Regions from separate parts of the Homo sapiens genome. Here all the other regions are linked to region 1. Evidence: fine-mapped expression QTL. A gene starts in region 1. Each other region holds a variant in brackets. All regions are shown on one strand. Distances are from middle to middle.

What was found. PIP is the estimated chance that this variant, and not a neighbour inherited with it, causes the effect. A credible set is the group of variants that fine-mapping cannot tell apart.
Region 2: its variant is the best candidate, but not a certain one, in a credible set for the expression of USP39 in neutrophils (CEDAR, PIP 0.56).
Region 3: its variant is the best candidate, but not a certain one, in a credible set for the expression of USP39 in monocytes (CEDAR, PIP 0.50).

The regions. Positions count from the first base shown.
Region 1 is chr2:85,611,561-85,621,840 of GRCh38, forward strand. It overlaps USP39 (ubiquitin specific peptidase 39), which reads left to right and starts at 4,626. Exons shown (of 13, transcript NM_006590.4): 1 at 4,626-4,903; 2 at 7,660-7,729; 3 at 9,925-10,019. The coding sequence starts at 4,636. C2orf68 (chromosome 2 open reading frame 68) reads right to left here and starts at 506. Exons shown (of 4, transcript NM_001013649.4): 1 at 318-506; 2 at 108-226. The coding sequence starts at 424. RefSeq lists silencers at 277-658, 278-347, 834-1,006 and enhancers at 618-847, 4,290-4,339, 4,370-4,419.
Region 2 is chr2:85,642,465-85,651,291 of GRCh38, forward strand. USP39 (ubiquitin specific peptidase 39) reads left to right here. Exons shown (of 13, transcript NM_006590.4): 11 at 2,484-2,619; 12 at 5,466-5,552; 13 at 6,297-6,819. The coding sequence ends at 6,344. Among named protein-coding and RNA genes, the nearest start is that of SFTPB, 21 kb to the right of the region's middle. The variant CT/C (reference allele first, on the strand shown) is at 4,419.
Region 3 is chr2:85,654,095-85,663,154 of GRCh38, forward strand. SFTPB (surfactant protein B) reads right to left here. Exons shown (of 11, transcript NM_000542.5): 9 at 7,935-8,015; 10 at 7,360-7,441; 11 at 3,220-5,588. The coding sequence ends at 7,379. Among named protein-coding and RNA genes, the nearest start is that of SFTPB, 9.6 kb to the right of the region's middle. The variant C/CT (reference allele first, on the strand shown) is at 6,350.

The DNA.
Region 1 (10,280 bases):
AGATGAGCTGAACCTTAGGAGTAAGAAGTGGTTTTTCCCTATAGAGAAGGGGAGTGCGTTGCAGGAAGAGCGCGCGGGCTGGAGGCAGGCGGGGCGGGCGGCCTCACCTCGGTGTCGCGGCAGGTACACCTGCAGGTCTGGCTTGCGGGGCCGCGTCGGCGCGGGCGTGTGCCGCCTCCTCACCTTCTCCTTGGCCGCCTGCTTCACCTTCTTGTCATAGTCGTCCCTGCGGGGAGCCGAGCGGGAGTCAGGGACTGTCGGGCCGGGCCAGGCCAGGCCAGGAGTGGTGGCGGCGGCGGCGCAGGGCGGGGCGGTACCGAGCGATCTGGTTCCGTCGGATATGGTGCACGAAGCCGTGGTTCATGTCCAGCCGCCCCCCAGGCTTGCAGCAGTGCCCCGGCCGGGGATGCGGCCCCGCCTCCATCAGGAGCCGGGGACGCAGAGTCGCCGCCGCCTCGACGGCCCCAACAACAGCCACCCGCCCACAGAGCTCCGCGCCGCCCCTTGCTCAGCTTCCGGCCCCGCATCCTGACTTCCGGTCTGGGAGGCCCCGGCCTGGCCAAGCGATGCAGCGCACGGAGTTTTCGGGTCTGGTCGGGTCGGGTGGAGTAGGGTATGCTTGACTTCCACCCCCCGGACGGAGGGCTTTTGTTTTTGTTTTTTTTTGTTTGTTTTTTCGTAACATATCAATAGGAAACAAGGACTTCGGCTTACAGCTGATACCAGAACCTTCAGAAAAATGCAAATCATCTATAACACAACTCGATGCTTACGGCGGTGCCTTCCCATCTTTTTTCTGGTAATAGGATGCTGTGCAATCCATCGCCATCTGCGTGACTTTGGCTGACTGTGTAACGCTGCCACTTCTCAGTTTCCTCATTAGTAAATGGGAACACCTAGAGCACCTACCTCAAATGGATTGTGAGGCCTTGAAGTGCTCAGGCAGGGCAACAGCGGCGCCCAGGCCGCAGGCGCCGCGAAGGCTCTCCTGGCCCGGCTTGCCTCCTGCTCACGGCGCCGATGGCTTAACTGTCCCCGCGGGAGGACCCAGGGTTTTTGAGGGACCTACGGGTGTATTATTTTCTTTTTTATTTATTTTTCCTTTTTTTTTTCTTTTTGAGAAGGAGTCTCACTCTGTCGCTCAGGCTGGAGTGCATTGGCGTGATTTCGGCTCACTGCAACCTCCGCCTCCCGGGTTCAAGCGATTCTCCTGCCTCAGCCTCCCGAGTAGCTGGGACTACATGCGCGTGCCACCACGCCCGGCTAAGTTTTGTATTTTTGGTAGAGATAAGGTTTCACCACGTTGGCCAGGCTGGTCTCGAACTCCTGACCTCAGGTGATCCGCCTGCCTCGGCCTCCCAAAGTGTTGGGATTGCAGGCATGAGCCACCGTGCCCGGCCCCTTTTTTTTTTTTTTCTATTTTTTCTGACCACTGGGTTCACGTCACAGCGTGTAAAATTCTCAAGTCCTTTTACAAAAGTCAAAATCAGGAATTCATGATTAGGACAGGGACAAACGGCTGGATGCAGTGGCTCATGTCTGTAATTCCAAAACTTTGGGATGCCGAAGTGGGAGTATCGCTGGAGGGAGGAATTTGAGACCAGCCTGGGCAACACAGCGAGACATCGTCTCTACAAGAAAAAAATACATTAAAAAAGAAAGAAAGAGCCGGGCGTGGTGGCTCACGCCTGTAATCCCAGCACTTTGGGAGGCCCAGGCGGGCAGATCAAGAGGTCAGGAGTTCGAGACTAGCCTGGCCAAAATGGTGAAACCCCGTCTCTACTAAAAAAAAATACAAAAAATTAGCTGGGCTTGATGGCCGGTGCTTGTAATCCCAGCTACTTGGGAGGCTGAGGCAGGAGAATCGCTTGAACCCGGGAGGCGGAGGTTGCAGTCAGCCGAGATCGAGCCACTGCAGTCCAACCTCCAAATCAAAAAACAAAAAACAAAAACAAAAAACAGGGACCAATGGTGGTCCAGCCACACGATGGAATATTACTGAGCAATCCAAAGGAAGATCTGTAGCTCAACAACATGGATGGATCATAAAATAAATATGCCCAGTGAAAGAGGCCAGGGACTCTGTATGATTCCATTTATATGAGACTCTAGGAAGTGCAAACTAATCTATAGTGACCGAGAGATCAGTTGATTTTTGTGGGGGTTCTCTGGGAGGAAGAGGATATCTTTGGGGCTGGGTAGATTCTTTAAATTTTTTTTTATTTTTTTATTTTTTTGAGGCAGGATCTCACTGTCGCATAGGTTGGATTGTAGTGGTGCAATCACTGCTCACTGCAGCCTCCACCTCTCAGGCCCAAACGATCCTCCTGCCTCAGCCTCCTGAATAGCATGCCACCATGCCCAGCTAATTTTAAAATTTTTTTGTGGAGATGGGGGGGGTCTCTCTATGTTGCCAAGGCTAGTCTTGAACTCCTGACCTCAAGTGATCCTCCTGCCTCAGGCCTCCCAAAGTGCTGGGATTATAAGTGTGAGCCACCGTACTGGGCCCAGATCCCGTCTCTTGATTGTGGTGATGGCTTCATGGGTGTATATGTTACAGGAAAGGGATCCCTATTCAGACCCCAGCAGAGGGTTCTTGGATCTTGTGCAAGAAAGAATTCAGGGTGAGTCCACAGTGCAAAGTAAAAGCAAGTTTATTAAGAAAGTAAAGTAGCCAGGTGTCGCGGCTTATGCCTGTAATCCCTGCACTTTGGAAGGGGAGGCGGGCGGATCACTTGAGGTCAGCACTTCCATACCAGCCTGGCCAACATGGTGAAACTCTGTGCCTACTAAAAATACAAAAATTAGCCGGGCATGGTGGCAGGTGCATGTAATCCCAGCTACTCAGGAGTCTGAGGCAGGATAATCACTTGAACCCAGGAGGCAGAAGTTGCAGTGAGCCGAGATCTCACCAATGCACTCCAACCTGGGTGACAGAGCAAGACTCTGTATCAAAAAAATAAAATGTAAAGTAGTGAAAGTACAGCTACTCCATTGACAGAATAGGGCGTTCCTGAAAGTAAAAGGAGGAACGCATCCACCATGGCTACAATGCTTGTTTATATATAGGATAAAAAGATCATGGGGAGATGTGCTCTGCTACAAGGGTTTGTGATAAAGGATTAATTTTATTATTATATTTTGCAAGAAGAAATATTATCTTTAAAGCAAAATTAGGAATGCCTTTATTCTCCAGATATTGGGATATTAGGACACTCCCAAGTCTGGATCTGTTTAGTAAACATTATCTCTCTGTTCCCTTAACTGTAGACATCTCTAGGCTAGGAATACCTAACTTCCTGGGAATGCAGCCTGTCAAGGCCCAGCCTCATTTTCCTAACCCTCACTCAAGATGGAGTTGGTCTGGTTGAAACGCCTCTGACATATACCGCAAGTCAGAATTCAGTAAATTGCACACAGTGTGGTGTGGTGTGGTGTGGTGTGGTGTGGTGTGGTGTGGTGTGGTGTGGTGTGGGTATGACAGAGTTTCACTCTGGTTGCCCAGGCTGGAGTGCAATGGGGCGATCTCGGCTCATTGCAACCTCCGCCTCCCGGGTTCAAGCGATTCTCCTGCCTCAGCCTCCTAAGTAGCTGGGTTAACAGGCTCGTGCCACCACGCCCGGCTAATTTTTGTATTTTTAGTAGAGATGGGGTTTCACCATATTGGCCAGGCTGGTCTCCAGTCCTGACCTCAGGTGATCCGCCCGCCTTGGCCTCCCAAAGTGCTGGTATTATAGGCATGAGCCACAGCGCCTGGCCTAAATTGCACACTTTAAACATGTAGTTTGTTGTATGTCAATTATACCTCAATGGAACGGTTCAAACAAGCAAACAAGTTCAAGGCAGGTCCTGAGGTTAGAGCTTTATTAGCTTCATGGTAAATCTGCCTTTACCGGGCATTTGCGTTTTCATGGTACCAAGAACCTTCTAAAAGTAGAATTAGGGCTGTCAAGGGGATGATTTGGGAATGTCGCCTAGTTTTCCTGTGCAGGATTGTCAGCCCCCAAGCCGCGGAGACTGTGGGAAACGACCTCACGGTGGTGGTTTCGAGGCACAAATCTGGGGCCGAATGACAGCTTCTTTGTTTTTGAGACGGAGTTTCGCTCGTTGCCCAGGCTGGAGTGCAATGGCGCGATCTCGGCTCACCGCAACCTCCGCCTCCTGGGTTCAAGCGATTCTCCTGCCTTAGCCTCCCGAGTAGCTGGGATTACAGGCATGCGCCACAATGCCGGGCTAATTTTGTATTTTTAGTAGAGACGGGGTTTCTCCATGTTGGTCAGGTTGGTCTCGAACTCCCGACCTCAGGTGATCCACCCGCCTCGGCCTCCCAAAGTGCTGGGATTACAGGCGTAAGCCACCGCGCCCGGCCTGACAGCTTTTATCCAGAAAACTGTCGCCAGTAAAGGTTCCCGTCTCAGTAAACTGTAAACGACAGTAGGCCCACAGAAGGTTCTAAGGGGAGAGGAAGCCAGTGCAGGAACAGCACCGCCCACAAATTTTCTGCAGCGTGATTTGTCCCCAGTGGCGACTCGTAGAGAGTTCGGGGCTCGCTACCAGCCCCTCTCCTGATTGGCCTTGTGCCGCGCGCTCGAGCGTGCTTGGCGCCTGCGCTGGACGACTCGGCCGGTAGTGGAGATGTCCGGCCGGTCTAAGCGGGAGTCTCGCGGTTCCACTCGCGGGAAGCGAGAGTCTGAGTCGCGGGGCAGCTCCGGTCGCGTCAAGCGGGAGCGAGATCGGGAGCGGGAGCCTGAGGCGGCGAGCTCCCGGGGCAGCCCTGTGCGCGTGAAGCGGGAGTTCGAGCCGGCGAGCGCGCGCGAGGCCCCGGCTTCTGTTGTCCCGTTTGTGCGGGTGAAGCGGGAGCGCGAGGTCGATGAGGACTCGGAGCCTGAGCGGGAGGTGCGAGGTGCGCGGGGCCGGGCCGGGCTAGGCGCGAGAGCCTGTTTTTTTCGCGTCCTTTTTTCTTGTCTCTAATCTTCCGCTAGGTCACTGCGCCGGAGTTGGGGGAGGGGTGGGGTTGGGGTGGAGAAGAGGAGGGATCCAGACTCGACGATTCTGCTGTTCGACTTGTTCTGATGAAGACAGTACCCTTCTCAATAATCGTATAGTATTTCTTTTTTCTTTTTTTTTTTTTTTTTGAGATGGAGTCTCATTCTGTCACCCAGGATGGAGTGCAGTGGCGCGATCTCGGCTCACTGCAACCTCTGCCTCCCCGGTTCAAACGATTCTCCTACCTCCGCCTCCCAGGTAGCTGGGATTACAGGCGCCCACCACCGCTCCCGCCACCACGCCCGGCTAATTTTTTGTGTTTTTAGTAGAGAAGGGGGTTTCATCGTGTTAGCCAGGATGGTCTCGATCTCCTGACTTCGTGATCCGCCCGCCTCGGCCTCCCAAAGTGCTGGGATTACAGGCGTGAACCACCGTGCCCGGCCAAACGTATGGTATTTCTAACTGCAAAAATCGTAACAACAGCAGCTTCCCTTTATCGAATGCCCGATGTGGGGGCTCAGTGCTGATTTTACAAGTGTTACTTCCTTCCATTTTAAAAAAGAATTTTTTTTTTTTTTTTTGCGTTTTAAGAGAAGCAAGTCTCGCTATGTTGCCTAGGCTGGTCTCGAACTCCTGGACTCAAGTGTTCCACTCACCTCGGCCTCCCAAAGTGCTGGGTTTACAGGCGTGAGCCACCGTGCACGGCTTTCCTTCAGTTTTTACATCTAAGGTCTTGTAATTTCTGTAATCAAGATATTCAGAATGCTTGAGCAATAGGCACCTCTACTAAAGTATGGATTATGTAGCACTTTTTAAGCTGAATAAAGTCTGGAGACAATTTTCCATTAGTCTCTTGAGTTTGTGCACGTACTGCGACCATTGCCTGACTGCCTTTTCTCCTGGACTCTCGTTAAGGATGTTCGTGTAGTGAGCAGCCTTGGAAGATAGAAATGGTGTCTCCCTACAAAACGAGGAGACAAGGGCACAATCCCTTATAAAAGATTTGGGGCAGGGTGTGGTGGCTCACACCTGTAATCGCAGCTACTCTATAGGATGAGGTAGAGTTCAAGACTAGGATAGGCAACAGAGCGAGACCTCGTTTGAAAAAATGGTTAATGGTTCAGATTCTCTAAGCACGGGGTTCGTCTCCTGTAAGGCAGCTCACTGTGTGCATGGGTTCTCCTCACTTTGCCTTGTGGGAATTCACTTGGAAAACTGACACCAATGCTATATTCCGGCTACTGTCATTGCTCTAATAAACTGTCCTTTATTTCAGGCCAGGTAGTCACATGCTTTCCATCAGCATTCATAAAACTGTGACAGGCTAACTTGTTAGCTTGCGAGTAGGGTAAGATCTGAGACCCACTCAAGTTTTTGACAAGTGGTAGATTTATAGATACACATGTACATTCTTTTTTTTTTTTTTGAGACAGTTTCACTCTTGTTGTCCAGGCTGGAGTGCAATGGCACGATCTCAGCTCACTGCAACCTCTGCCTCCCAGGTTCAAGCAATTCTCCTGTCTCAGCCTCCCAAGTAGGCTGGGATTACACGTGCATGCCACCATGCCCGGCTAATTTTTGTATTTTTTAGTAGAGATGGGGTTTTATTATATTGGTCAGGCTGGCCTTGAACTCCTGACCTCAGGTGAGCCGCCTGCCTCTGCCTCCCAGAGTGCTGGGATTACAGGCATGAGCCACTCACCCAGCCACTCTTTAAACTACGTAGTACATTTGTGGCCGGGCGCAGTGGCTCACGCCTGTAATCCCAGCACTTTGGGAGGCCAAGGAGGGTGGATCGCAAGGTCAGGAGTTCGAGACCAGCCTGGCCAACATGGTGAAACCCCGTCTCTTCTAAAAGTATGAAAATTAGCTGGGTGTGGTGGCTTGTGCCTGTAGTCCCAGCTACTCGGGAGGCTGAGGCAGGAGAATTGCTTGAATCCGGGAGGCGGAGGTTGCTGTGAGCTGAGATCGCGCCATTGCACTCCAGCCTGGGGGACAGAGCGAGACTCCGTCTCAAAAAAAAAAAAACAAAAAAAAAACGAAACACACAACTATATGGTACATTTGTATTACAATTAGTTTATTTTAGTGCTTGTGACATATTTCATATTTTTCATGCTTTATGGGATTTCTTTATGTAAAATGCAAACAAATCTTCTGTTGATTTTATGTATACCAAATATATTCTCCCAGTTTGTGGCTTGTTCTATTAGTGGGCTTTTTTCTTTTCTTTTTTTTTTGAGAGGGAGTTTTGCTCTTGTCGCCCAGGCTGGAGTGCAGCGGTACGATCTCTGCTCACTGCAACCGCCTTCTCCCAGGTTCAAGCAATTATCCTGCCTCAACTTCCTGAATAGCTGGGATTACAGGCACCCACCACCATGCCTGGCTAATTTTTGTGTTTTTTGTAGAGACGGGGTTTCACCATAGTTGGCCAGGCTGGTCTTGAACTCCTGACCTCAGGTGATCCACCCATCTCGGTTTCCCAAAGTGCTGGGATTATAGGCATGAGCTACCGCGCCCGGCTAGTGGACTTTTTTTTCGATATTGTTGCCACCCAAACAATAGGAACTCATCTTGATTAGTTTTTCCCATTTCTGTTTCTTTTTTTGTTCTGTTAGTTGGCCCTGAGTATAGGTTTCCCATTTTCAAAGCCTGTGATGATTTTCCTTTCAGCAAAGAATGGCCGAGTGGATTCTGAGGACCGGAGGAGCCGCCACTGCCCGTACCTGGACACCATTAACAGGTCAGTAGGACAGAGATGCTGAGTATAGCACAAGAACAATGGAATCTGTGCAGAAAGTTTTTGGACTGTACAGTGAACAACACATTGACAAACTTTACTTTTTTTGAACCTGTCTAGAGAGTTGTGCTTCTTGCCATGTTACTCCTTATTCTTTGATTTAAAGTGTCAGAACACATGTTGTTAAAGAGCTTATTTTGCATTTGTATGTTGGGATAACAGGATGCATAGTATCCTAAAATAACAGTAGCACATTGAAATGTTTATGGAGTATCTAGTATGTGCTGGATACTATTTTGGGTGCCTGGGATTCAGCAGAAAAAAAACACAGAAATTTGTTTGAAAGCTGAGGTAGTTTACCTCATCATAGCATTCTTTTCTCTGATTCCCAGGTGGCATGTAGAATGTTTTTCAACCTATATTGTAGGGGAATGTTTTACAATAATATAATTACTCTTGTAAGAGCTGGGTGTGGTGGCCCACGCCTTTACTCAGCCCTTTGGCAGGCCAAGGCAGGAGGATCCCTTGAGGCCAGAAATTTGAGACCAGCCTGGTCAACATAATGAGACCCATCTTTTTTTTTTTGAGATGGAGTTTCATTTTTGTCCCCCAGGCTGGAGTGCAATGGCGCGATCTTGGCTTACTGCAACCTTCGCCTTCCAGGTTCAAGTGATTATCCTGCCTCAGCTTCCTGAGTAGCTGGGATTACAGGTGCCCGCCACCACGCCCAGCTAATTTTTGTATTTTTTTTAGAAGAGACGGGGTTTCATCATGTTGGCCAGGCTGACCTCAAACTCCTGAACTCAGGAGATCCACCTGCCTTGGCCTCCCAAAGTGCTGGGATTACAGGCATGAGCCACCACGCCCAGCCAACGAGACCCATCTTTTAAAAAAACTTAAAAAAAAAGTTATGGCCGGGTGCTCTGGCTCATGCCTGTAATCCCAGCACTTTGGGAGGCTGAGGCAGGCAGATTGCTTGAGCTCAGGAGTTTGAGCATCCTGGGCAGCATGGCAAAACTTCAGCTCTACAAAAAATAAAAAAATTAGCCAGGTGTGGTGGTGCACTCCTGTAGTCCCAGCTTCTTGGGGGGCTGAAGCAGGAGGATTGCTTGAACCTAGGAGGTTGAGGCTGCAGTGAGCTGAGATTGCGCCACTGTACTCCAGCCTGGATGACAAAGTGAGACCCTATCTCAAAAAAAAAAAACCAAAAAAGTTATAAGGGCTGTTCATTATGGTAGGCATGAGCCACCTGTGGCTTCAGTGGCTCCTGCAGTTGAAGAACTGAATTTTAAATTTTATTTAATTGAATTACAGTCAGCCTCAGTATCAGGATATGGAACCTGAAGGTACAAAGGGCCAGCTGTAAGGGGCTTGAACATTGTGGATTTTGGTATTTGAAGGGGTCCTAGAACCAGTGTCCTGTGGCTACTGAGGGACAGCTGTATTTTAAATTTAATTGTCAATAGCCACTTTGTCTAGTGGCCTCTAATAAATTAGACAGCATAGCTCTTTGGGATTATTATCGGTTAATTAAGAGTTACTATTTGAGAATAAATCTCTTTGTGGATTCAGTGGAGATAAGGTTTTTGTTCCTTACTGCCAGTACTCACTTTGCACTTGAATAAATAGGTCTGTTTATAGGTATTCTGAAATTCTTCAGGCTATTTGTTTTTATGGATAAAAATACATTTTTATTTTGTAATTAATTATTATTATTATTTGTTTTTAAGAGAGGATCCCACTCTGTATCCCAGTCTGGAGTGCAGTGGTGGATCAGAGCTCATTAGTCACAAACTCCTGGGCTTAAGTGATATGTTTTTCTTTTATGCAAGGATTTATTCACCCTTTTTATGTCCTCTCCACCTCCAGAATGCTGCTGGGGTACTGTTACCTTAGTCTAACTTGTAGCTTTCTCTCTAGAGAAAGTGACTGCAATGGAAAGTCCTGAACTGGTTACAAACACTAATGAGAAAGAGGCTCGTGGGTATTATGTGTCTGGTGGAGACACCTCAACAGTGCTTTGGAGCATGGCGGGTGGAGGTGAGGAATAATCAGTGTCCCCCATGGTGTATATATGGTTGTGAACTGTTTTCTGAAGGATGTTATGTGGTATCATGGGTCACAGAGCCAGCACTGCTTCATTTGCGTGCCTTCCTACATGTCCATCCTATTTATTTTTTTCTGTTTTGTTTCCTTAGGAGTGTGCTGGACTTTGACTTTGAGAAACTGTGTTCTATCTCCCTCTCACACATCAATGCTTATGCCTGTCTGGTGTGTGGCAAGTACTTTCAAGGTAAATAAGTTGTTAGAGCTAACTGCAGATCTGCTCCAGAGGGACTTTTTTTTTTTTTTTAAAGAAAGTAAGCTGTTCTCAGGAATCATATCTAATAATTTCTATTTGTTCCCAGGAAATTGAAATATTCTTAGAAAACCAATAAGAGGTTCTCTGACTGGTCAGAACCTGGATATGTCTGTAAGGGAGAAAGAGCTAGTCATATGAAAGACTGTAATCTTAAAGACTCTGGGTTCTCGAATCTCTAATATATGTATTTTT
Region 2 (8,827 bases), 30 kb after region 1:
TGTGTATCAATGGTACTTCCTGCTCAGTTGCCACAGAAATTTCCTTGCCCCATTGGTTTCTTTTATGGGCCTAGAGTAGGCCCAATATAAAAGTTTGTCCTTCAGAAAGCTTACTTCGGAGAAGTTGAGAAAAAGATTGTTTCTTAACTACGCAGTCTTTTAGAGAACATCAAATTGTGACTAATTCTGGAAACTTGCACTTTAATTATTTTATGTGCTGTAATTACTTCGAGTAATACAATTCTGGATCATTTCATTGTCCATACTTCTTGAAAAGGATCTTTTTCATACCTGTCTTCTCCTATGTTTTATTCATAACACATCCTGTTTTTGTCGGAGAGTTATCAGACTTATGGTGATTAGGCACCCTCTGCTTATTTGGAGATAGAGATTTTTGAGGGCAGGTTTAAAGTTTCACTTTCAGGTAATTAGCCATTCTCTTAACTGGTCTGTTGCTGTGGTTGGGAGATGAGTATAGTTTGCTCTTTTAGGCTGGGCGCAGTGGCTCACATCTGTAATGTCATCACTTTGGGAGGCCGAGGTGGGAGAATTGCTTGAGCTCAGGAGTTTGAGACCTGCCTGGACAACATAGCAAGACCTTGTCTCTACTAAAAAAAAAAAAAAAATGAATAGTTTGCTCCTTTTCCTATTTACTAACACAAAATGATTAAACGTAGTATTTCTCTTTTGCCGCATGGACAGTTTTGGTTCAGTCATGAAATCTTGAGTATAAAGACTTCTCCAAACCAGGCACGGTGGCTCACACCTGTAATCCCAGCCCTTTGGGAGGCCAAGGCGGGCGGATCACGAGGTCAGGAGATCGAGACCATCCTGGCTAACACGGTGAAACCCCGTCTCTACTAAAAATTCAAAAAATTAGCCAGGCATGGTGGTGGGCGCCTGTAGTCCCAGCTACTCGGGAGGCTGAGACAGGAGAATGGCGTGAACCCAGGAAGCAGAGCTTGCAGTGAATTGAGATAGCTAGCGCCATTGCACTCCAGTCTGGGCGACAGAGCGAGACTCTGTCTCAAAAAAAAAAAAGACTTCTTCACTGATACTCATTCAGACAAGTCTAGTCAGCTTTTGTTCAGGCTGAAGAGAAAATAAAATGAGAAGTCAGCCTTTAGTAGCAGGAAGGCAGGTTGGCTGACTAGAGCTCACATGGACTCAGGACTCATATCTCCTTTTTTTTTTTTTTTTGGAGATGGAGTCTCGCTCTGTTGCCCAGGCTGGAGTGCGGTGGCGTTATCTCGGCTCACTGCAACCTTCGCCTCCTGGGTTCAAGCAATTCTCCTGCCTCAGCCTCCGGAATAGGTGGGACTACAGGTGCACGCCGCCACGCCCAGCTAATTTTTTTTTTTGTACTTTAGTAAAGGCAGGGTTTCACGATGTTACCCAGGCTGGTTTCGAACTCCTGAGCTCAGGCAGTCTGCCCGCCTCGGCCTCCCAAAGTGTTGGGATTACAGGCATGAGCCACCGCACCTGGCTTCCATTTTCTTAACAGTGAATATTTATTGCAGTCTGACTGCATCATATATGGGACACTGTCAGTCTGTAGAAACAAATAGCTGTCACCAATACATAGAAAGCTACATATAATAATTACAACAAAGTTGTATGTTTGTTTATTACCACATGGTTTACATTTTAAACTCTGTAATTTTGAACAGTTAATATGTTCACAGTCTAACTTCAAAGGGAGATATATAACTGGACGTGACCACCATTAGCTGTTTCTTGTGAACTCTTCCAGTGATAACATGGTTTTGTTTCATGTAATGAGTGGTAGCACATCAGACAACTTTTATGATGCAATGTCTTTTTTTTTATTTTACCTTGTATTGTGTAAGTTTTTATAAATATTTGTAGACTCCAAAATGATATATTTTTCCTAAAATTATGTATTTAATCTTAATATTCTTGTTAACTGTCTATATATTTTCCTTTTTAACTATTTGAAAGTTCTTCTTCCTTTTGGGGGTTTTTTGAGACAGGGTCTCACTGTCGCCCAGGCTGGAGTGCAATAGTGTGGTCCTGGCTCACTTTAGCCGTAATCTCCTGGGCTCAAGTGATCCTCTCACCTCAGCCTCCTGAGTAGCTAGGACCACATGCATGTACCACCATGCCTGGCTAATTTTTTTTTTGTAGGGGTCTCACTACATTGCCCAGGCTGGCCTTGAACTCCTGGGCTCAAGCAGTCCTCCTACCTTGACCTCTCAAAGTGTTGGGATTATAGGTATGAGCCACTGCCTGTCATTCTTTTTTTTTTTTTTAAATCATATGGGAAGCTGTGTAACCCTGTCATTCATTTTGGCATATTTTGTGAATTCCAACGCACCTGGACCTTCTTGACTCTGCAAGCCTACCCAGAGAAAGGGTCCTAAAATAGGGCTGAACAATTTTGTGGTCCGTTTGTGTAGGACAGTTTCCTTAACCTCACAGCCTTTGTCTGATTATTCCGGCTTTATTTTAACCATTAACAGAAATGTGGATCTGAGAGAATACTTGTCTGAAGAAGTACAAGCAGTACACAAGAATACCACCTATGACCTCATTGCCAACATCGTGCATGACGGCAAGCCCTCCGAGGGCTCCTACCGGATCCACGTGCTTCATCATGTGAGTGGCTGCTGACCGTCTCATGGCACAGAGTGGCAAAAACAGGTGTTTCTTTGGCATCTCAGAGGGCAGCTCCCTTCAGTGTGTCCTTGCTTGGCCTTGGCTTTGGGACTCTGCAAGTAATAGTGCTGTCAGTAGTTAGTTTAAGGCAGTGGTTCTCAATTTTGGCTACACATTGGACTCACCTTGGGAGCTTTTTTTTTTTTTTTTTGAGACAGGGTCTCGCTCTGTAGCCCAGGCTGGAGTGCAGTGGCGTGATCTTGGCTCACTGCAACCTCCGCCTCCTGGGTTCAAGCAGTTCTCTGCCTCAGCCTCCCGAATAGCTGGGATTATGGGATTACAGGCGCCCATCACCACGCCCGGCTAATTTTTGTATTTTTAGTAGAGACGGGGTTTTACGATCTTGGCCAGGCCAGTCTTGAACTCCTGACCTTGTGATCCACCCACCTCGGCCTCCCAAAGTGTTGGGATTACAGGCGTGAGCCACCGCGCCAACCGGGAGCTTTTTAAAATCCCAATGCCTGGCACCACACCAGGCCGGTTATAATAGTAGTTTTCAGCTGGGGCAGAGGCCAGGGATGTTGGTATATATTTTACAACACGAAGGACAGCCCGTGTTACAAAGAATTATCTGACCCTAAACATCAGTCAGCATTAAGGTTAAAGGCTCTCTGTTAGATTGTCTGGAGGTGGATGTCTTTTCTGTTTGATGTCTTTTCTATTTTTCAAGTTAATTGAGATGGGGTTGTGCTATGATGCTCATGCTGGTCTCAAGCAATCCTCCCGCCTCAGCTTCTGAAACTGCTGGGATTACAGGTATGAGCCACCATGCCTGGCTGGCATTTGATGTTTTGAAGTTCCCTGAGAGACCCTGATATGCAGCCAAGGTTGAGAACCTCTGCCCTAGACTAGAGCCTTACCATCCAAAGTGGGATGCATCCTTGGACCAATAACATCAGCATCAGTCTTGTTAGAAATCAGCTTGTTAGAAATGCAGACTCTCAGTCCCCTCAAACCTACCACATCAGAACCTGGATTTTAACGTGACCCTCTGATTTGTAAGAAATTAAAGTTTGCGAAGCACTGGTTTAGAGGCTCCCTTTCATCTTAAAAATGTTGTGGATTTGTCTCAAGTTGAAAACAGATAAAACATGTACTTGAGATATATTTGATATCACATAGATTATTAGCATAAATTGTTCTCATTTGATTAGCCTCTTCTGGAACTGTGGGTTTAATCTTAACTAGCTTCTGTTTATCAAGTGCTTTATTGTGGTTAGGCAGTACGCCAGTTACTTAATGTACATTAATCTCATTTCTTTCATTAAAACACACCTCCAAGACAGATGTCAGTATCATCTTTTTTACAGAGGAGGAGACCTAGGCTCAGAGTTTCAGTAATTGACCTCAAGTCAGTAGAATTAGGATTTGACCCAGGTACTCTGCTTCAAAGCCCATGTTCTTAACTCGTCCTTGAAGCAGGAATGGGAACTTACTTATGTGATCCTGAGCTTTCCTTATGTTTCCTATATTCTCAACTATTGTAATATCCAGAGGATCTGGAATATTTATATTCTACAATAATGGTCTTTGGTATTTCTTAGAACTTTGGTTGGATAAGACAGGTGGGCGGCCAGAGGTGCCTCTGCCTTAATCTAGAAACATTTTTTCCTTGTTCATGGAAGCATGAAGTGAGATACGTTTTGCTGTATTTGTAGCACTGGTTTCTTAGGCCAAAGGAATCAGGTTAGTGTGATAGACAGTGTCCACCAAGGACACCTTTTCTTGATGACCTGTTG[CT/C]TTTTTTTTTTTTTTTTTTTTTAAGACAGAGTCTCACCCTATCACCCAGGATGGAATGCAGTGGCATGATCTTGGCTCACTGCAACCTCCACCTCCTGGGTTCAAGTGATTCTCCTGCCTCAGCCTCCCAAGTAGCTGGGACCTACAGGCACCTGCCACCAGGCCTGGCTAATTTTTGTATTTTTGGTAGAGACGGGGTTTTACTGTGTTGGCCAGGCTGGTCTCAAACTCCTTACCTCAAGTGATCTGCCCACCTCGGCCTCCCAAAATGCTGGGATTACAGGCGTAAGCCCCTGTGCCCAGCCAGGAATGTCCATATTTAGGTTCTCTCAGTGGTTGACACTGTGTACCTCATAAGTGAGAATGTCTAGTCTGTCATTTCTGAGCAGGAAGGAGACATCATAGGTGATGATTAGATGGCTTCCTCTTTTCTCATCTTTAGTGTCCACTAAATTCCTTTTAAAAAGATGTACAGAAGTGTTTCAGACTCCATTGTACTTCAAGGGGCCAGGCGCAGTGGCTCATACCCATAATCCTAGCACTTTAGGAGGCTGAGGCGGGAGGATCTTTTGAGACCAGGAGTTAGCCTGGGCAACACAGTGGGACCCCATTGCTATTAAAAAAAAAATTAGCCAGTTTTAGTGGCACACACCTGTAGTTCCAGCTACCTGGGAGGCTGAGGGGAGGATCGCTTGAATCCAGAGGGTCAAGGCTGCAGTGAGCTGTGATTACACCACTGTAGTCCAGCCTGGGTGACAGAGTGAGACCCTGTCTCAAAAAAAAAAAAAAACAAAAAAACAACAAACAAAAAACAGTGCTTTAAAAAAATTCCCAACAGGAATTGAGTTTGCCATGATTGACACACCAAAAGTCCTATTAATTGAATCATGGCCAGAAGAAGTCATGTACCCTCTTCTTTATGACTGTTGCTGGATGATGTCTAGTGGCTGTTCTTCTAATTTTTCTAGTCTTGGCTATGATCCTTTCCTTCTACACCCTTTTGGTTTTAGAGAGCAGACTAACCCAGCTCTTCATACTTTCTGCAGGGGACAGGCAAATGGTATGAATTACAAGACCTCCAGGTGACTGACATCCTTCCCCAGATGATCACACTGTCAGAGGCTTACATTCAGGTGGGTTGGCCACAGGCTTAGTGAGCCACAAATAGGTGGCGTATGGGGCCAGTGAGAGGAGTGGGCCAAGGCAGGAAGAGGGATAGAGTTAGGACCTTGGTTGGAGGGCCAGGTACCTATTGGGAAGTACTTAGTAGTGAGTTGGGGGCAGAATGTATGGCCCTGAAAGTCAAGCAGAGATTTTCAGAAAAGAAGTATAAGGAAGTGTAGAAAATGTATGAGTGAGCAAAGAAAGTTGCGATTATGGCCAGGTTAGTTTTGCAGAAGTGTGCGGTCTGGTTTCGAGGAGGAAGAACCTAGACTCATCAGGGAGGCTGGCTAGAAGTCGACCACGAAGTGCTCCCCAGAGCCCCAGGCAGCTTTGTGACCCCACAGCGCTTTCTACTTGACGTTTGTTTTAGTGCCGGCCATATCGCTTTGCCTGTCTGTCCTCTCCATTGGATTGACCCATGGAGCACAGAGCATCTCTGTCTTCTCTTTATGTAACTGCCCTAGTACCTGGCAAAAGAAGGAAGATTGAGACAAAAGCCATAGCTTTGTAAGAAGAAAGTGATACCTCTCCTTCTAGAGATAACTTTTTTCTCCTCAGTGGCTGTAGCCACTGTAGCAGATTTCCAAATGGGGTATAGCAGATTTGTAAATGGGGTGACAAGTTGTCCATGGCCTGGCACAGAATAGGTATTTGATAAGTGTCTGTTGACTGAATGCCTCCTAGACTTCAGTTTGTGTTTTCATTTCTTACAGATTTGGAAGAGGCGAGATAATGATGAAACCAACCAGCAGGGGGCTTGAAGGAGGCGTCTAGGGCTTTGCTCCCAAGGGCTGTGGCTGATGATGGTAAATAAGAACACAGAAGCTGTAGCTGAACACAGGCTGGCTGGTGGGCTTCCTAGGCCAGCCCAGCTTGTATGGGTTCTGGCTACACCAGAGCACCAAGAGCCCACTTGCCTGGGATGGCCCCACACTGTCACTCAGCTGTTCTTTGATCATTTTTTTCTAGATTGATGCTCCTTTCTCCCATGCATTGAGCTCCCATCTAGCTTCAGCAGGGCAGAACCCTTCTCCAGATGTGTGTAACTTATGTCTTGAGTATCTGGGAGTAGTTGAAGAACAGATAATTCCTTCCAAACATCAAGCCTTGGGATTCTTGGAGCAAGCAGAAAGCCAGTAACTTCGCTCTGTTAGAGGTGGAGGATTTTCCTATGGTTCCCCCCATTTCCTGATTTGTATTTTTAGATGGATTAAATAGTCTCCTGTTTTTAAACCAGCCTCTTGTTTTATATCTTTTCCTTTGGTGGTTGGCTGAGGAAAATATTTTCCTTTTTAATCTTCACAAACTCTCTACCCTACAGTCTGACATCTGGTGCACATCACGCTCGCCCTTTCCTGTCAGCTTGTGGGTGGTGTGTCAGTTAGGATGCATTTGTTTCTAAGTAAAAAAATACCTGAGTCAAGGGGATACATTATTATTGTGCTTAACTAGAGGGCCAGAGGTGGGCAGTTTCCAGCTGCAGTGCAGGAATGAGTAAGGGAAGAGGAAAAAAAGGAAATAGGAAGCGCTTCTCACTACAGTGCAATTCTGAGGTGGTCTCAGCCAGTCCAGTGTGGAGCCCCAGGGCAAAGATTCCGTCAGACAATTCAGCAGAAATGGCTCCCATCAAGCTCAGTCGTGGGCTCTAGCAGCCTAGAAGAAGGGTGGCCTTGGCATGAGCACTGTGGCAGGTCCAAAGATATGGGAAGCAGCTGGAGGCAGCCAGTCAGCCCCAGCAAGTTCTGTTGAATGGAGACAGGAGCCCCGCACTCCTGTGGTGCCACCCTTTACCTGGTCACAACCTTGTCCTCACTTTCCTCTACCTCTCTGGAAGCTCCAGTATTTCCTTAGGAGGCTTATCTCTTCTATCCAGCCATTAAATTTGGGTTTTCTCAAGATTCAGTCCTAGCGTCACTCTTCTTGCTGTTTACTTTTTCCCTAGGCCATTTCAGCTATGCATTTTTATGGAAATGACTCATAAACACATCTTAATCCCAGATTTTTCTAAACTCTTGAACTTCGCTCTGTTGCCCAGGCTGGAATGCAGTGGCACAATCTTGGCTCACTGCAACCTCCACCTCCCAGGGTCAAGTGATTTCCGGCTAATTTTTTTATTTTATTTTATTTTATTTATTTTATTTTATTTTTTAATTTTAATTTTTATTTTAGAGATGGAGTCTTGCTCTGTCGCCCAGGCTAGAGTGCAGTGGCATGATCTCAGCTCACTGCAACCTCTGCCTCCTGGGTTCAAGTGATTCTCCTGCCTCAGCCTCCTGAATAGCTGGGATTATAGGCGACCACCACCGTGCCCAGCTAATTTTTGTATTTTTAGTAGAGACGGGGTTTCATCATGTTGGCCAGGCTGGTCTCGAACTCCTGACCTCAAGTGATCCACCCGCCTCGGCCTCCCAAAGTGTTGGGATTACAGGCGTGAGCCATGGTGCCCAGCCCTATTTTTGGGTGTTTTAAAGTAAACTCAAACTTAACATTGTTTAGAACTGAGCTTGCCAGGTGTGGTGGCTCCTGCCTGTAATCCTAACACTTCGGGAGGCTGAGGTGGAAGAATTGTTTGTGGCCAGGAGTTCAAGACCAGCCTGGCCAACATAGCAAGACCCTATTAGCCGGGCATGGTGGTGTGTGCCTGTAGTTCCACCTATCTGGGAGGCTGAGGCAGGAAGGTCCTTTGAGCGCAGGATTTGAGGCTGCAGTGAACCATGATTGCACCACTGCACTCCAGCCTGGGCAACAGAGCAAGACCTTGTCATTACAAAAAAGAAAAAAAATTGAGCTTGTGAGTTTCCCTTTTTTTTTTTTTGAGATGGAGTCTCACTCTTGTCCAGGCTGGAGTGCAGTGGTGTGATCTCAGCTCACTGCCGACCTCTGCCTCTCAGGCTCGAGTGATTCTCCTGCCACAGCCTTCCGAGTAGGTGGGACTACAGGTGTGCGCCCCACACCCGGCTAATTTTTGTATTTTTAGTAGAGATGGGGTTTCACCATGTTGGTCAGGCTGGTCTTGAACTCCTGACCTCAGGTGATCTGCTGACCTTGGCCTCCCAAAGTGTTGGGATTACAGGCATGAGCCACTGTGCCCTGCCATGAGTTTCTCTTTCAAACTTGGCTATTTTTGAGGTGAAGATTACACTATCCAGTTAGAGAAATTCATGTATAATAATCTGTTCAGGGAAAGTTTAATTTCAATAATTATTAACTACAACGGGTTTGTAGAAACGGGATTAGTTAGTAA
Region 3 (9,060 bases), 42 kb after region 1:
CTTGGAGCTGACCGTCATATCCTGTGTGATCTTGAGGTCCTTTGTGGGTGACACATGGCTTGCTTCCACCACGGCTGTCTGGGTTGGGGGCCTGGCCTGCATGTCTTCAAAGCTGATCCCAGCATGCCCTTCCTCTTTTGGAGACCTCAAGGTCTGGCCAGAGTTTGAACCACACATGGGGAAGAAGTGAAATTCAATTCATGTTTTCTTAGCATGACCCCACAGCCAGAAATCACGAGAAAAAGATAGATGTGGAAAAAATACTCCAGATATATGATAGAGAAAAATTTGCAATGTATAGGACAGTAAATAAATGAATATACCTAGTTTATTTTTACTCGTAAAACAATAAGAAAAAGAAACCTAAACAGAAAATTGGGCAAAAAACCCAAGTAGGCATTTCACAAAAGATGAAATATAAATGGCCAATAAACATGTGAAAAGGTGTTTATTTGGTAACTAAAGAAATGCAAATTAGAACGACCATGAGACATCATTTAAAAATATTTTGGATTAGCAGAAAAAAAAAAAAGGAACCAAACCAAACCAAAACAAAACAAAACAAATATTTTGGATAGGCCAGATGCAGTGGCTCACACCTGTAATCCCAGCACTTTGGGAGGCCAAGACTGGTGGATCATCTGAGGTCAGGAGTTTGAGGCCAGCCTGGACAACATGGTGAAACCCCGTCTCTACTAAAAATGCAAAAATTAGCCAGGCATGGTAGCACGTTCCTGTAATCTCAGCTACTCCGGAGGCTGAGGCAAGAGAATTGCTTGAACCTGGGAGGCAGAGGCTGCAGTGAGCCGAGATTGTGCCACTGCCCTCCAGCCTGTATATATAAATATATATATATATTTTTGGATTAGCAAAGTTTGAAAGATTGTTAATACCCCAGTTTGGTGAGAGTGGAAAGAGGCACTTGTTTTCTTTTGGGATAGAAGTTGGTACGGCTGGCACAGAGGCCCAGATTGATAATCCAGCCTCTGTTAAAAGTAAAGGTGTCCCCCAAATTTCATGTCTTGGAATTGATTCTAAGAAGACAGACAAACAAAGATGTAAGTGCGAGGATTTTTATTTTTTGCAAATCGTTGATAATAGTTGCTTAAAAAAGAAAGGGCCGGCCGTGCGCGGTGGCTCACGCCTGTAATCCCAGCACTTTGGGAGGCTGAGGCGGGTGGATCACGAGTTCAGGAGATCAAGACCATCTTGGCTAACACAGTGAAACCCCGTGTCTAGTAAAAATACAAAAAAAAAAAAAAAAAAAAATTAGCTGGGCGTGGTGGCGGGCTCCTGTAGTCCCAGCTACTCAGGAGGCTGAGGCAGGAGAATGGCATGAACCTGGGATGCGGAGCTTGCAGTGAGCTGAGATCACGCCACTGCAATCCAGCCTGGATGACAGAGTGAGACTCTTGTCTCAAAAAAAAAAAAAAAAAAAAGTAAGGGCCAGCCATGGTATCTGACGCCTGTAGTCCCAGCACTTAGGGAGGCAGAGGCAGGAGGATTGCTTAAACCCCAGAGTGATCGCACCACTGCACTCTAGCCTGGGAGACAGAGCTGTCATGTGGCAATTAGCAATAATAGTAGATACTTACATTTATTGACCTGAAAAGGTTATTGTTAAATGAACAGTGCAGGTTACAAAGCAGCATGTATAGGATGTTTCCATTTTGTAGATCTGCTGTATCTGTTTTTGTATATGTGCACAGAAAGCTTTGGAATTATAGATAATAACATGTTAATAATGATTATGTCGTGGATTTAAAATTTCAGTTATTCATTAGGGGGACATAATGTAATTATCTTTATTTCTCTATAACTGAACTCATTTTGGCTCATGAGCCCTCAAAACATATTATTTCCATTTCGGAGTAACTCATTCCCTTCTTAATACTCAGCCTCTCTTGGCTGACTAACCACTGAATCCTCTTTCCCCTTTCCCTGGGAATGATTTACAGATTGCCCTGCGGTGAGGAGAGGCACTGGGGACTAAGCATTCCCTGGCCATCCAGGTCTCTCTGGAGTGTCTCTCGTCTTGCCTGATCATCATCTTCTTGTGCCATCACTGCTACACATCTGATTTCTGCTCATCTCAAGATCCACTAAATCTGTCACAGATTCATCCCCAACCGTGGGCTCTTACGGGTGCACCATCTTGTCCAGAGCCAATTCTGACTGCCTCTCGGTCTGTGGGTTGAGGTTGCTCTTCTGCAACCACATCACACTGGGAACACTCTGTGAGGCAGACCTCAGGCCAGCTGCCTAGCTCCATCCCTCAGGCTAGCGTCCTCACCCTTTCTGATGTCCTGTGAGAGGCAGGCTTCTCTTAGAAGCCCACACCCTGGAAAGTGAAGAATAAGTCCCCTCCTCTTGGGCTATAATCCCTCCTGGGACTTCTCTTCCCCCAACTTCCTAAGGGCAGAGGTGCAGGATGTTGGACACTTCTCAGGGACCCTAGGAGTCTCAAGTGTAGCCACTTCCTGCCAATTCTGTCCTCCTACCAGCTAGTCAACTCTTTTTTAAAATTATTTATTTATTTGTTTTTGAAATAGGATCTCTCTGTGTCACCCAGGGTGGAGTGCAGTGGCATCATCACGGCTCACTGCAGCCTTGACCTGGATTCAGGCGATCCTCCCACCTCAGCCTCCTGAATAGCTGGGACCACAGACACACACCACCATGGCCAGCTAATGTTTGTATCTTTTTTTTTTTTCTTTTAGACAGAGTTTTGCTCTTGTTGCCCAGGCTGGAGTGCAGTGGCGCAATCCTGGCTCACTGCAGCCTCTGCCTCCTGGGTTCAAGCAATTCTCCTGTCTCAGCCTTCCAAGTAGCTGGGATAACAGGCATGCACTACCACATCCAGCTAATTTTGTATTTTTTTTAGTAGATATGTGGTTTCACCATGTTAGGCTGGTCTGGAACTCCTAACCTCAAGTGATCCACCCACCTCAGCCTCCAAAAGTGCTAGGATTACAGGTGTGAGCCACCATGCCCAGCCAAATTTTTATATTTTTTATAGAGATGGTGTTTTGCCACGTTGCCCAGTCTGGTCTTGAACTCCTGGGCTCAAGTGATTCACTCACCTCAGCCTCCCAAAGTCTGCCAATTCTTGACCTCCTTTTGAATGAAGCCGCCTTTTTCATTATCAGGCACTCATTCCCACTCATATTTTTGGGATAAACTATTAATGCCTCCAGTTCTTCAAACATTGGCTCTTCATTGTCTCAATCAAACTTTTTTGTTTTTATTTTTTTAAATTTAAAACACCCTTTTCTCTCAGAGAGTTGGATTTTGTAATGGAAACAATGGCTTTAAGGACAGTAGTTAGCTATAGATTTACAAATGTCTACTTAAAATCCAGGAGCCAATGAATTGTGTGTCTCATCCCCAGGCCCAAGAGCAGGCTGCATAGACAGCTCTTTCTGGCGCTTGAACGGTGGAGGTGTGGAGCCAGAGGCTGTGGGGAGAAGATGGAAAAAGCCCCAAGCTCAGTGTCAAAACACACACCCTGCCGTAGCTCTCTCCTGGGCTAGGTGGGATTGTGGGTGTCACATGCTTCCCTGTGAAGAGACTACCAAACAGGCTTTGTGTGAACAATAAAGCTTTTTAATCACCTGGGTGCAGGTGGGCTGAGTCCAAAAAGAGTCAGCAAAGGGTGGTGGGATTATCATTAGTTCTTGTAGGTTTGGGATAGGCGGTGGAGTTAGGAGCAATTTTTTGTGGGCAGGGGGTGGATCTTACAAAGCACATTCTCAATGGCGGAGAGAATATTACAAAATACCTTCTTAAGGGTGCGGGGGTGCGGGCGTGGGGTGGGTGGGGAGAATATTACAAAGCACCTTCTCAAGGGTGGGGAAGGTGTATTGTCACAAGGTCAATTGATCAGTTAGGGTGGGGCAGGAACAAATCACAATGGTGGAATGTCATCAGTTAAGGCAGGAACTGGCTATTTTCACTTCTTTTGTGGATCTTCAGTTGCTTCAGGCCATCTGGGTGTATACGTGCAGGGCACAGGGGATATGATGGCTTAGCTTGGGCTCAGAGGCCTGACAGTGGGTAATTTCCACTCTCTTTGTCTGTAGTTTCTGAATTTCTTACAAGAAACATGTATAAGAAATATGACAAAAGTTATTTTATAAATAAAGGGACACTTCCAGGCATTTCAGTCTTTAAGAAAAGCTAAGGCTTGTTTGGCTTTTTGTTTATTTTTAGGTTTTTGGTGTCCTCATGACCTAACCTCATCCCAGTGAGTAGAGACTGGGAGGGGAGAGCAGCAGCTGGAGGGCAGGCTGGGAGCGCTTGTGAGGGAGAGGAGCTATGGACGTCTGCTTCTCTGCCAAGGGAGAGAGTGAGGTAGGCCTGGGCCCGCTGACTTCAGGGTGAGGCCACAGCTACTGCAGCGCTTTTTATTTATTTATTTATTTACTGAGATGGAGTCTTGCTCTGTCACCCAGGCTGGAGTGCAGTGGTGCAATCTCGGCTCACTGCAACCTCTGCCTCCTGGGCTGCAGTGATTCTCCTGCGTTCAAGTAATTCTCCTGCCTCGGCCTTCTGAGTAGTTGGGATTACAGGCATATGCCACCACACTTGGCTAATTTTTTGTATTTTTAGTAGAAATGGGGTTTCACCATGTTGGCGAGGCTGGTCTCGAACTCCTGACCTCAAGGATCCTCCTGCCTCGGCCTCCTAAGGTGCTGGGATTGCAGGTGTGAGCCACCACGTCTGGCCATACTGCAGCACTTTAAAGGACGGTGTCTTTTTCTTTCTCATAAAAGAGAATAGGACTTTATTAGCATTGGTGCAGACATTGTATTACACAGGAATGGGTCCCTAGCTTGCACAACCCCAGCTGAGCTTTCAGCAGATAAATCACAGCAGAAATAGAATCACCCTAGGACTTTCAATCAAAAGCTGGAAGTCCACCTTACAGAAAGACAAAAAGAAACCCCTTTTTATATCTTAACAAAGCAATAGCTCTCAAGCAGCAGAGCATCTCGAGGAAGAAAGCTTGCCCGGTCGCCATCCCATCATGCCAGAGCGTGCAGTGTCCACCCTTGACTACGCTGGGGAATTGCTGATTTTTTGAAAAAGCTTAACTTAACAATTTCTGATGTCTATCTTTTAGAGTTCTGTATGTTCCCATTTTTTATTCTTCTGAATTTTGAATTGCAAGTAGCTGTAAAATCCAATCTTTGAGTGCATGGGGGTGGGTGTGAGGCGGGGCTCAGCTTCAACCCCCTGTCCTGTAAAGCAGTGGCTGGTTTTTCCTGAGCCCAGCCCTGGGAGGTCGTGGTAGGTGTGGAGGCTGCAGAGCTCCTCCAGATGCTGCCCTCGCTGTGCCTCACACCAGAGAGGATGGAAGTGGGCTCTGGTGTCAGACTGTGGTTGAGCTGAGACAGACAAGGCCGACACAGGGCTGGGGGCCCGTGGTCCACCAGTGGAAGTGACTGCCGAGGAAGGGCGGTGAGGAGGGCGGTGTGGGAGCTGAGGCTTCTTTTCAGCCTGGCAGCTGGCGAGGGCCAGGGAGCAGGGGAAGAGCCTGGTCACCATGGTCCCAGAGCCCGTCTCACTTGGCTTTTCCTTTGCAGCTGAGGAGGATGAGGGCCAGAGAGGGACTGTGTGTATGTCCTGCCTGGGGACCCACAGCCAGGTGATAGCAGAGGTGGTTTGAAGCCCAGGCCTCCCACGCCAACCCACTGGTCTTGCTGTTTCAGCAGGGAAGGCCGGGAGCCCTAGGAGCTGGGGAAAGGCGACTGCCCGGGTCCTGGGTGACTCCCCACCCCCAGATCCCCAGCTGTCATCACTGGGGCAAGGACACATTAAACTGGTCCCTGTGGGTCAGGTCTGAGTGGGGGAGGACCTCCCCTCCCCACTGCCTCCCACAGGGGCTTGTGATGCAGGGTTTCAGGAACAGGGCTGGCTTCCCCGCCTCAGATGGAAGAAGTGGACTTGGCTGTGAGCTCCAGGAGGGCAGGGCTCAGCCATAGCCCCTACCCTAGGATGTGGCCTGGCCACAGGCACCCACTACTTTTTTTTTTTTTTTTTTGAGACGGAGTCTCACTCTGTCACCCAGGCTGGAGTGCAGAGGCGCAATCTTGGCTCGCTGCAATCTCCGCCTCCCAGGTTCAAGCAATTCTCCTCCTCAGCCTCCCAAGTAGCTGGGATTACAGGTGTGTGCCACCACATCTGGCTAATTTTTTTTTTTTTTTTTTTTTTTTTTAGTAGATACGGGGTTTCATCATGTTGGTAAGGCTGGTCTTGAACTCCTGACCTCAAGTGATCCACTCGCCTCGGTCTCCCAAAGTGCTGGGATTACAGGTGTGAGCCACTGCGCCCAGCAAAGAAATAC[C/CT]TTTTTTTTTTTTTTTTTTTTCCTGAGACAGAGTTGTGCTCTGTTGCCTAGGCTAGAGTGCAGTGGCACGATCTCGGCACACCGCAACCTTCGCCTCCCAGGTTCAAGTGATTCTCCTGCCTAAGCGTCCTGAGTAGCTGGGATTACAGGCACCTGCCACCATGCTCAGCTAATTTTTAAAAAATATTTTTAGTAGAGACAGGGTTTCGCCATGTTGGCCAGGCTAGTCTCGAACTCCTGACCTCAGGTGATCTGCCTGCCTCGGCCTCCCAAAGTGCTGGGATTACCGGCGTGAGCCACCATGCCTGGCCTTACATTTTTTAAAATGAGGGAACAAATGAATAAATGACCACCATGTTAGGGGCTGGCTCTGAACAGAATTGTAAAGTGGGCCAAGCTTGCTCTCAAGGTCACCTTAAGCCCACGGTTGCTGTGTCCTGCCCTCTCAGGGTCATTTCCCAGCCTCCAGGCACCTGTTCACAGAGGCTGCATCTGGCCTCGCCTCCACCCCTCCATCCTAAGGTGCTCCGCTGACTTAGAACAGGACAGTCAGGGAGAGAATGTGTCTCAGGAGGGTGGAGTCAGATGATCACGGCCTTCCTGGCATCTGAGGGGATACAGCTTCGGGTAGCAAAGTGTGATTTTCCCTGAGCCCCAGGAAAGCTTGGCCTTGGTCAGAATACATTGAACCCTGAGGGCCAGAGAGTCCCTGGGGCAAGCTCTGAGAGGGAGGCCTGGGACAGGGCAGGGCGGGGGGTTGGGGGGGAAGCTGGGGGTTGGGCACTCAGTGACTGGGGTTCTGGGCGGGGCAGTGCTCGGGGTCCGGAAAGGGTGTTTTCCTGATGGCCAGCCAGAAGCCCTCAGGAGCCTCCAGCTGTGCGGTGAGAGGGAGGATGGAGCAGCCGGCAGGAGTGGCCGCCTCTTCCTGCTTGGGGAGCAGAAGGGCCTCCCATGCCCTGATGGTCAGGACCTGCCCCCTTACCTCCCCGCAACTGGGGGCCTGGACTCACCTGGACAGCTGAGTTCTCATCAAAGGTCGGGGCTGTGGATACACTGGAGAGGGCTGGACATGGTCCCACACACCCCGAGGGCCTGTCACAGGGACAGCACCAGGGCTGAGGCCTGGGCCCCCTCAGCTCCCCACACCCAGCTCTTCCGGGAAAGAACAGCACTCACTCCACCTCCCGCCTAGTGGGTGCTACCAGTGTGACTCTGTAGACCCCTCGGGCCACTCCCTGAGCCACAGGCCTTAGGGTTTAGAGCCTGAGGAGGTGAGATGTTCACTCCAGAACACCCACTTTGTACCCCCACCCCACCAGCACACACTGGCCAGGGAACACAGCCCCATCCTATAATGGACATCCAGCCGCACTCCTCAGGCCATCCCTCCCTTCCCATCCCCCTTTTCCATGCTCTCATGATTTTTTACACTGAAACAGAGAGGGGTGCCTCCCAGTCCCTGGCCCGTGCACCTGGGACCACCTTGGACCCAGGGGAGTGAGGCCTCTGAGGATCACGGGCCCAAAGGGTGGGGGCTCTGGGAGCCAAGGGAAGTCCTAGGACCAACTGGGAGGGGTGGGTGTACCTGGCAGGTGGTGTGGGCATCCCAGCCCCTGGGCACCAGGGTCAGCAGCTGGGGCGTGTGCTGCTCCACAAATTGCTTGCACTGAGGAAGGAGACACACAGCTGTGGAGGGTCCCTTTGCAGGACTCTCCTGTCGTGTGGTCCTGGCCTCTCCACATCTCTGGATCACTCTAGGGCTCCCTCCCGACTCCTCCATCAGCCCTCACGGAACACCTCTGGCTGCAGTTGAAACCCTTAACAAACTGGAGCCAGCTGAAATGGAGGACTTCCATCAGAAAAGCAGGCGACACTGGAGACGGAGGACTCAGGCAGAGGGGTGGAATCTCAGCCACCACCCTCCCCTCCCTCCACCTCCATTTCAGTTCTAGAAGGAAACTTAACGTTCATCTGGTCCTTGAGACCAGATGTGATGGGCAGTCGGGAGGCTTGGGAGTTGCTGAGCAGGGAGCACAGTGTGGACAGCTGCCTCCTGGGAAGAGCATCAGCTGGCTTTCCTCAGGACAGGATCTCGCTTTAAGAAGGGAATTTCCTGTCCGGGTGCAGTGGCTTATGCCTGTAATCCCAGCACTTTGGGAGGCCAAGGCGGGCAGATCACTTCAGGTCAGGGGTTCGAGACCAGCCTGACCAATATGGTGAAACCTTGTCTCTACTAAAAATACAAAAATTAGCCGGGCCTGGTAGCACATGCCTGTAATCCCAGCTACTCAAGAGGCTGAGGCAGGAGAATCGCCTGAACCCGGAGGCAGAGGTTGCAGTGAGCCAAGATTGTGCCATTGCACTCCAGCCTGGGCAACAAGAGCAAAACTCCATCTCAAAAAAAAAAAAAAAAAAAAAAAAAAGGGAATTTCCTGTCATTGACTGAGTATTGGCAAGGGCCCTAGGACCTTCAAGTCCAGCCCTCTCCTTTTGCCAATGGGTTTGTCCTGAGTGAGTCACACCTTGAGGAGTGTGGGGGCAGTAAAGGGATCAGGACCCTGGAGAGAAGGCTAGTCCCTTTCCTGGCTTGAACTGGCCCTAGCATTACTCATCTCCTGGTAGATAACCAGGCCTCTGAAGGCTTGCCTGGTGCTCACTCAGCCCGTGAAGAGGGCCTGCTGGTCCTCTGGAGCCCACAGCCCTTTGTCCAG